Linked DNA regions of Homo sapiens. The protein of the gene in region 1 purifies or fractionates together with the protein of each later gene. This does not show direct contact. Each region holds a gene or a part of one and is shown on either strand. Other genes may lie near its edges.

What was found.
Region 2: the proteins of FAM117B (region 1) and IMMP1L purify together in Homo sapiens (affinity purification with mass spectrometry; 2 studies listed by BioGRID and IntAct, with this or other methods). This does not show direct contact.

The regions. Positions count from the first base shown.
Region 1 is NC_000002.12:202,721,758-202,725,596, reverse strand, and holds part of FAM117B (protein FAM117B), read right to left. Parts: intron 681-3,839; coding exon 588-680; intron 1-587.
Region 2 is NC_000011.10:31,431,805-31,434,504, forward strand, and holds the end of IMMP1L (mitochondrial inner membrane protease subunit 1), read right to left. Parts: intron 1,767-2,700; coding exon 1,656-1,766; intron 1,032-1,655; exon of another isoform or gene 765-1,031; coding exon 696-764; 3' UTR 597-695; downstream 1-596. UniProt on the Homo sapiens protein: Catalyzes the removal of transit peptides required for the targeting of proteins from the mitochondrial matrix, across the inner membrane, into the inter-membrane space. Known to process the nuclear encoded protein DIABLO.

The DNA.
Region 1 (3,839 bases):
CTGTAATCCCAGCACTTTGGGAGGCCAAGGCAGGCAGACTGCTTGAGGTCAGGAGTTAGAGACCAGCCTGGACAACATGATGAAACCCCATCTCTACTGAAAATACAAAAATTAGCTGGCCATGATGGCATACACCTGCAGTCCCAGGTACTTGGGAGGCTGAGGCACGAGAATTGCTTGAGCCTGGGAGGCAGAGCCTGCAGTGAGCCAAGATCGCACCACTGCACTCCAGCCTGGGCAACAGAGCGAGACTCCGTCTCACACACACACATGCACACCCCAAAAAAAAAAAAAAAAGAATAAATGTGAATTTGTTGTATTGTTACAATTTTTAAATCTGATGTTAATAGACAGGTATGAATTCTCCTAAAAAAAGACAAACATACATAATCAGGTAAGTGATATATAAATATCCCTATTGAAATCTTTATTAAATCAACACAATAATTGTTTTTGTTATTTCAGAAGCCAAAAAGAAAAAAGAAATCAATGGAAAACGACAAATCCTTGCTGCCCATAATATCAAGGAAATAGCCAACAAAAGGATCATATTTCCACACCCACTATCTTAGAACCATTTTTCTGACCTCCTTAAGTTGATCTGTACTGCCCCAAGATGCTGAGCGCTTGTGAGACCCTTTCTTCTTTTCAGAGTATTCTTCAGCCCATGCACTCTCTGTCTGTAATGAAAAAAGAGGGGAGGTGTATTTAACAAAAATCATTTCACAACAATGTCTACCATATTTTTCTATTATAAAACATATTTCCATTACAAAAAAATTAGACATTAAAAATAATTAACACAAATTACTCAAAATTCTCCTGGCACCAGTTACTTAACTGGTATTAATTACAATTAATATTTTGGCATACTTCATTTTTATTGCTAATAAAAAATTAGTATTTTTACATAATTATAATTATACTACAAATAAAGCATTTATGGAACAAAGTTAACTATATATAATAACTAGAGTTACCATAGTTAACTAACATATAATAGCTAATAATGTCAGTTATTATTAGCACGCACCAGGCACACTAATAATAGCTAACATTCTTGTGCTCTTATGTGCTAGGCACTGTGCTTTCATATGCTTTATCTGACTTAACACATGTAAGTTGCCTAAGGTGTTACAAGCGGCAAAGCCAAGAAATAAACCTGAGACTCCAGAGCTTGTAATATTAACTTCTATATTATGTCTAGTCTTGCCATAAGTATCTTCAGAGAACAGCTTCAAAAATGTTAAACCTGGCTGGGCGCGGTGGCTCACGCCTGTAATCCCAGCACTTTGGGAGGCCAAGGCGGACAGGCCACGAGGTCAGGAGTTCGAGAACAGCCTGACCAGCATGGTGAAACCTTGTCTCTACTAAAAATACAAAAATTAGCGTGTGCTTGTAATCCCAGCTACTCAGGAGGCTGAGGCAGGAGAATCGCTTGAACCCGGGAGGTGGAGATTGCAGTGAGCCGAGATCGTGCCACCGTACTCCAGCCTGGATGACAGAGGGAGGCTCCGTCTCAAAAAAAAAAAAAAAAAAAAAAAAGTTAAACCTTAAGTAGTTATACCAAACCCAGAATTTAAAAAGTGTATTGGGAAAGAAAATACAAATGAGTTCCTAGCACATGAAACTATGCTCAACCTCACTGATAAGAAGGGAAATGAAAGTTAAAGCTTCAACAAGATTGAGCAATTTGCTAATATAAACTCTCCTATATTGTTAGTGGGAGCATACAGCCTTTATGGGGGGATATTCAGCACCTGCTGTCAAAGTTATAAATGCGCAAACTGACACAGCAACCCCTTATTTAACAATTTATCCTGCACAGATACCAAATGCACATCTTTATGTACAAAATGACTTGCCTATTATTCCCTGTAGCACTGTTCTTACAAGTAAGACTGAAACAATGTAAGTAAGTTAGATTTATTTAGGTTTGGCTAAATAAATTATGGTATACCTTTATAACAGAGTACTGTGCAGCTATAAAAATGAATAAGGAAATTCACAATATACAGACATGAAATAATCTCCATGATATACTGTTAAGTGAAAAACCTCAAGGCTCAGTACCGTGTGTATAGCAACTGCCTTTATATGGGACTGCTAAAAAGAATGCATGTGTGTGTAAATTATATCTGGAAGAAAATAGATGGTAACAAAGAAAATTGGTACCAGTGGCTGTCTCTGGGGAAAAAGACCCTTAGTGTATACCCTTCTGTACCTTCTGAATTTTGTACATGAAATAATAAAAAATACCAAAAAATACTGTGCAGTTTGAATATCTTTTGCACTATTAACGTACCAATTACTAATTATAAAATGGTCTAGTTTCAAATGGGGAAGGAAAAGTTTTCAAAAATGAAGACACTGTGATTCTAATTAGTCATGTCCCAGGTCTGGATCTTCTCCTTATAGCCAAAAGGACTCCATTCTGACAAGGATCCTTAAATACACTGAATCAAAAGGAAGGGCTACAATTTGGTCAACTTCCCACCACTCTATGCCCTATTTCACCCTAAACTCCAGTTTCACTTTGAGGTTACCAACTGATGTCACACATCCCAGAGGTGACCCCTACTGTACTTATAATTTCTCATATTAGGATCCACAGGCTCTTTAAGTCCATTGTTAAAATACCTGTCACAAAGATCAACATGTAAATAGGACCATATAGCATAAAGTATCAAAATCAAAAACCAAAATCAAAATAATAAACTTAATACTATAAAATTTAAAACCTTAACAAATGAATTTTTTTTTTTTAATTTTTAAGTTCAAGGGTACATGTACTGGTTACATAGGTAAACAGGTAAACTCGTGTCATGGGGGTTTGTTGTACAGATTATTTCGTCACCCAGGTACTAAGCCTAGTACTCATTAGCTATTTTCCCTGATCCTCTCCCTCCTCCCACCCTCCACCCTCTAGAAGGCCCCAGAATCTGCTCTTCCCCTCTATGTGTCCATGTGTTCTCATTATTTAGCTCCCATTTATAAGTGAGAACATGCAGTATTTGGTTTTCTGTTCCTGTGTTAGTTTGCTAAGGATAATGGCCTCTAGCTCCATCCATGTTCCTGCAAAGGACATGATCTTGTTTATTTTTATGGCTGCACAGTAGTCCATGGTGTATATGCACCACATTTTCCTTATCCAGGCTACTGTTGATGGGCATTTAGGTTGATTCCATGTCGTTGCTATTGTGAATAAGCAGCATAGTATGCGTGGTTCAGAATCACATATGTTGGTGTTAAACAAACATGTTTAAGTTTCAGATCAGTTAAATAACATTTTTTGGGCCAGGCGTGGTGGCTCATGCCTGTAATCCCAGGAGGCCGAGGCGGGTGGATCACGAAGTCAGAAGTTTGAGACCAGCCTGGCCAACATAGTGAAACCCCGTCTCTACAAAAAGTACAAAAAATTAGCCGGGCGTGGTGGCAGGCACGTGTAATCCCAGCTGCTTGGGAGGCTGAGGCAGGAGAATCGCTTGAACTTGGGAGGTGGAGGTTGCAGTGAGCTGAGATCTCGCCACTGCACTCTAGCCCGGGCGACAGTGAGAGGCTCCATCTCCAAAAAAAAAAAAAAAAAAAATTGTATCTTTACAAGATGCTTCTCTTATATGAATTTTTAAATTCCTCATTTATAAGAATAATGTCAGGCCAGGCACAGCGGCTCATGCTTATGCATGGCTAATCCCAGTGCTTTGAGAGGCCAAGGCTACAGGATCACTTGAGCCCAGGAATTCAAGACCAGCCTGGGGAACACAGGGAGACCTCATCTCTAAAAAAATGTAAAAAATTAGCTGGGCCTCATGACTCACGACTGTAGTCCTAGCTACTTG
Region 2 (2,700 bases), on another chromosome or scaffold:
CTCTGTCTCAAAAAAAATAAAATAAAATAAATAAAAAAAGATATAGTATTAATGCCTGTATTTATGAAGACAGGGCCATTGCACTGCTGCTATGCTGAAATGAACTTTTATAAAGTATTATTGACTATAGCCAACTACAGATGGCATATGCCTTAAAGATGCATTTTTCTATGTATTTAATATTTTGTGTACAGTAAAAGTCAGAACTCATTTAAAGAACTTTAAGGGATCCTTTAGAAACATTTTTACTTAATTTCAAATGAGTGGGCTGAGCATGTAGACTAGCAGCTTTTTATCAAACCTGGCATTGTCAGGTTGAACTTATAAATACGAATAGTTACTACTCTGACTTGTAAATGTAGCTGCTAAAGTATGAGGTATATTTAAGAAGAATAGATTAGTTTCATTATACCTATAAGAACAAGAATTCAAAAGTGAGGTAGTCATCCAGGTTCCCCCTCCCACAATATTTTTGTATCATAAAATTTAGATGACTTTTTTGGGTTACATTTTTATCCATATATTTTGAACTAACAGAACTTGGCAGAATGTGTGTTGAATATTCTTTACATTTAACAATTAAAAACAACTAAAACTGAATAGCAAATAGTTTATTGGTAAGTACACGGTTTCAACGGGAGTAATAAATTCACATGAAAAGGAGACAATAATCAAGTCAAAAGAATAAATGCTTACTAATCATCAGAAAATCTGTGGCCATTAGGGCTGGCACGTAAAAATCCAAAATCACTCAGAGGCCAAATCTGTAAAATCAAAATGAGGTTGAAGACAATTAGTGAAAGTAATGTTATAGTATCATCATATTCCCTTTTGCTATCTGTCCCTTTTCTCTATGCCAGATAAACACTTTCTCCTTACTCATCAATCAAGAATAAAATTTTCTACATCAAAGTAAGACTTGAGAAAATAAACTTATGTGTATATATGTTTAAACTCCAAAGTTTGGGACATTCAAACAATGTACATGAAATTATATGTGTGTGGTGTGTGAATAAATATGTATGAATATATGGTCTGTGTTTTCTTTTACTACTTGCAAGTAAGAGTTAACTGTGTACTTTCAACCAAAGGGGCTTAGGTTTAAGTACTTGAATATGGCATCTGTTTTAAATGTAAAGAATCCTGTAAATTATCCAACAGCTCCATGTATTCATGAATGTTTTTCTCCTCACTGATTGTGATAAAAAGGAGGGGCCAGTGAAAACAATCTTCCCTAATAATCATACATTCACAATAAGTCTGTGACTCACAGTACTCAACTGGGGTATCCCTACTTTACAGGTAGTTTGAATCTAGACTGTTCTTCTGCACATGCTTATTAAAATATGCCCTGGGCAGGATGTGAACATGGTTTTAAGAGTTGTACAAGAGAGAACTGAACTTTTGGAAATTCAAATTAAAGTTTTCTTAGGCTATAGCTAAGGTAGTTTGGATTTTATTATTATCTCTATGGGAGCAGGGGCAATGGGGGAATAGGTTTGCATATGGCTATTAAGTTAAGGCCAACAGGTTCAAAAAATATATTCGGTGCAACAGTTAAGTACACTGACAGCTTGAAGATTTCAGAGATCATTTTGAGAGAAACTTTTTCTAGCTCAGAAAATAAACCTTACATTTTAAGCAGAAAATGGTACCTTAAAGAAGATTCGTCCTCTTATTAGTCCATATGGAATAGGTCCATAGCACCTGGAATCTGTAGAATTCTGTAGATTGTCACCTTCTAACCAAACATGACCCATTGGCACCTAGAATTAGAGAAGAAATGCAGCCTCTTAAAGATAAAACCTAATTTGGGTACTATAATTAAAAAGCATGTCATTCAGAGGTAGGGAGAAATGTCCTAAGGCTCTCTTTTATAGAATAGATACAAATCCTAATATTGCATTTTTGCTTTTATTTCTTGCACAATAACTTTTACTAAATATCAAAGGTTTCAACTTTTTTAAAAACCTATCATCTTTTTTTGTCATATGGTTCCCAAATATTAATTTGTTATACAAACCCCAAACTGAGGTTATAAGAGATCAAAATAGTGTGACAGGGTCATTAATTTAATAGACTTCAAAAGAGGTCATTAGGATGCTGACTGAAAATGCGCCCTTGTGTCTCAATAACAGTATAAGCAGGGCAGCCACTCACTCAGCAACATCCTGGGGCCAATACCAAAGCCAAACCTATTAGAATGCTCATGATGAACTAAATGGTAATTGATTGTGACATCAATTACAAATAATCTCATCATTTTATTGGAGTAGGCTTGTCAGAATTCTAATTAACATCCCTGTTCTGCCTTTGTACAGGCCATATCTTCAATGCATTATACTTCAATAATGACCATGAAGAACCAGAAGGACCTATTATAAAATCATCAGTTGTAAAATTAATGATGGTGACCTTCTCCTAAATGAAAAGACTATCTCCTATAATGTTCTATGTATAAACTGGTAAATAACAAGATTTTTACTCAGTGACAATCATAAGCATATTTAGAACAGAATACATTGTTTTTTTTAAGCCACCTGCAATATGAGACATTTGCCTATTTCTGTTCAATGTAAACTAAAAAACTTACTTTCCAGCAACAATCTTTAAAATTGCTTTTTAAAAGTTTTTATTTTACAGTTTTGTTATCTAAGACAGTTGAATTATTGACCAGACCAAAATGATCTATGTATGGGG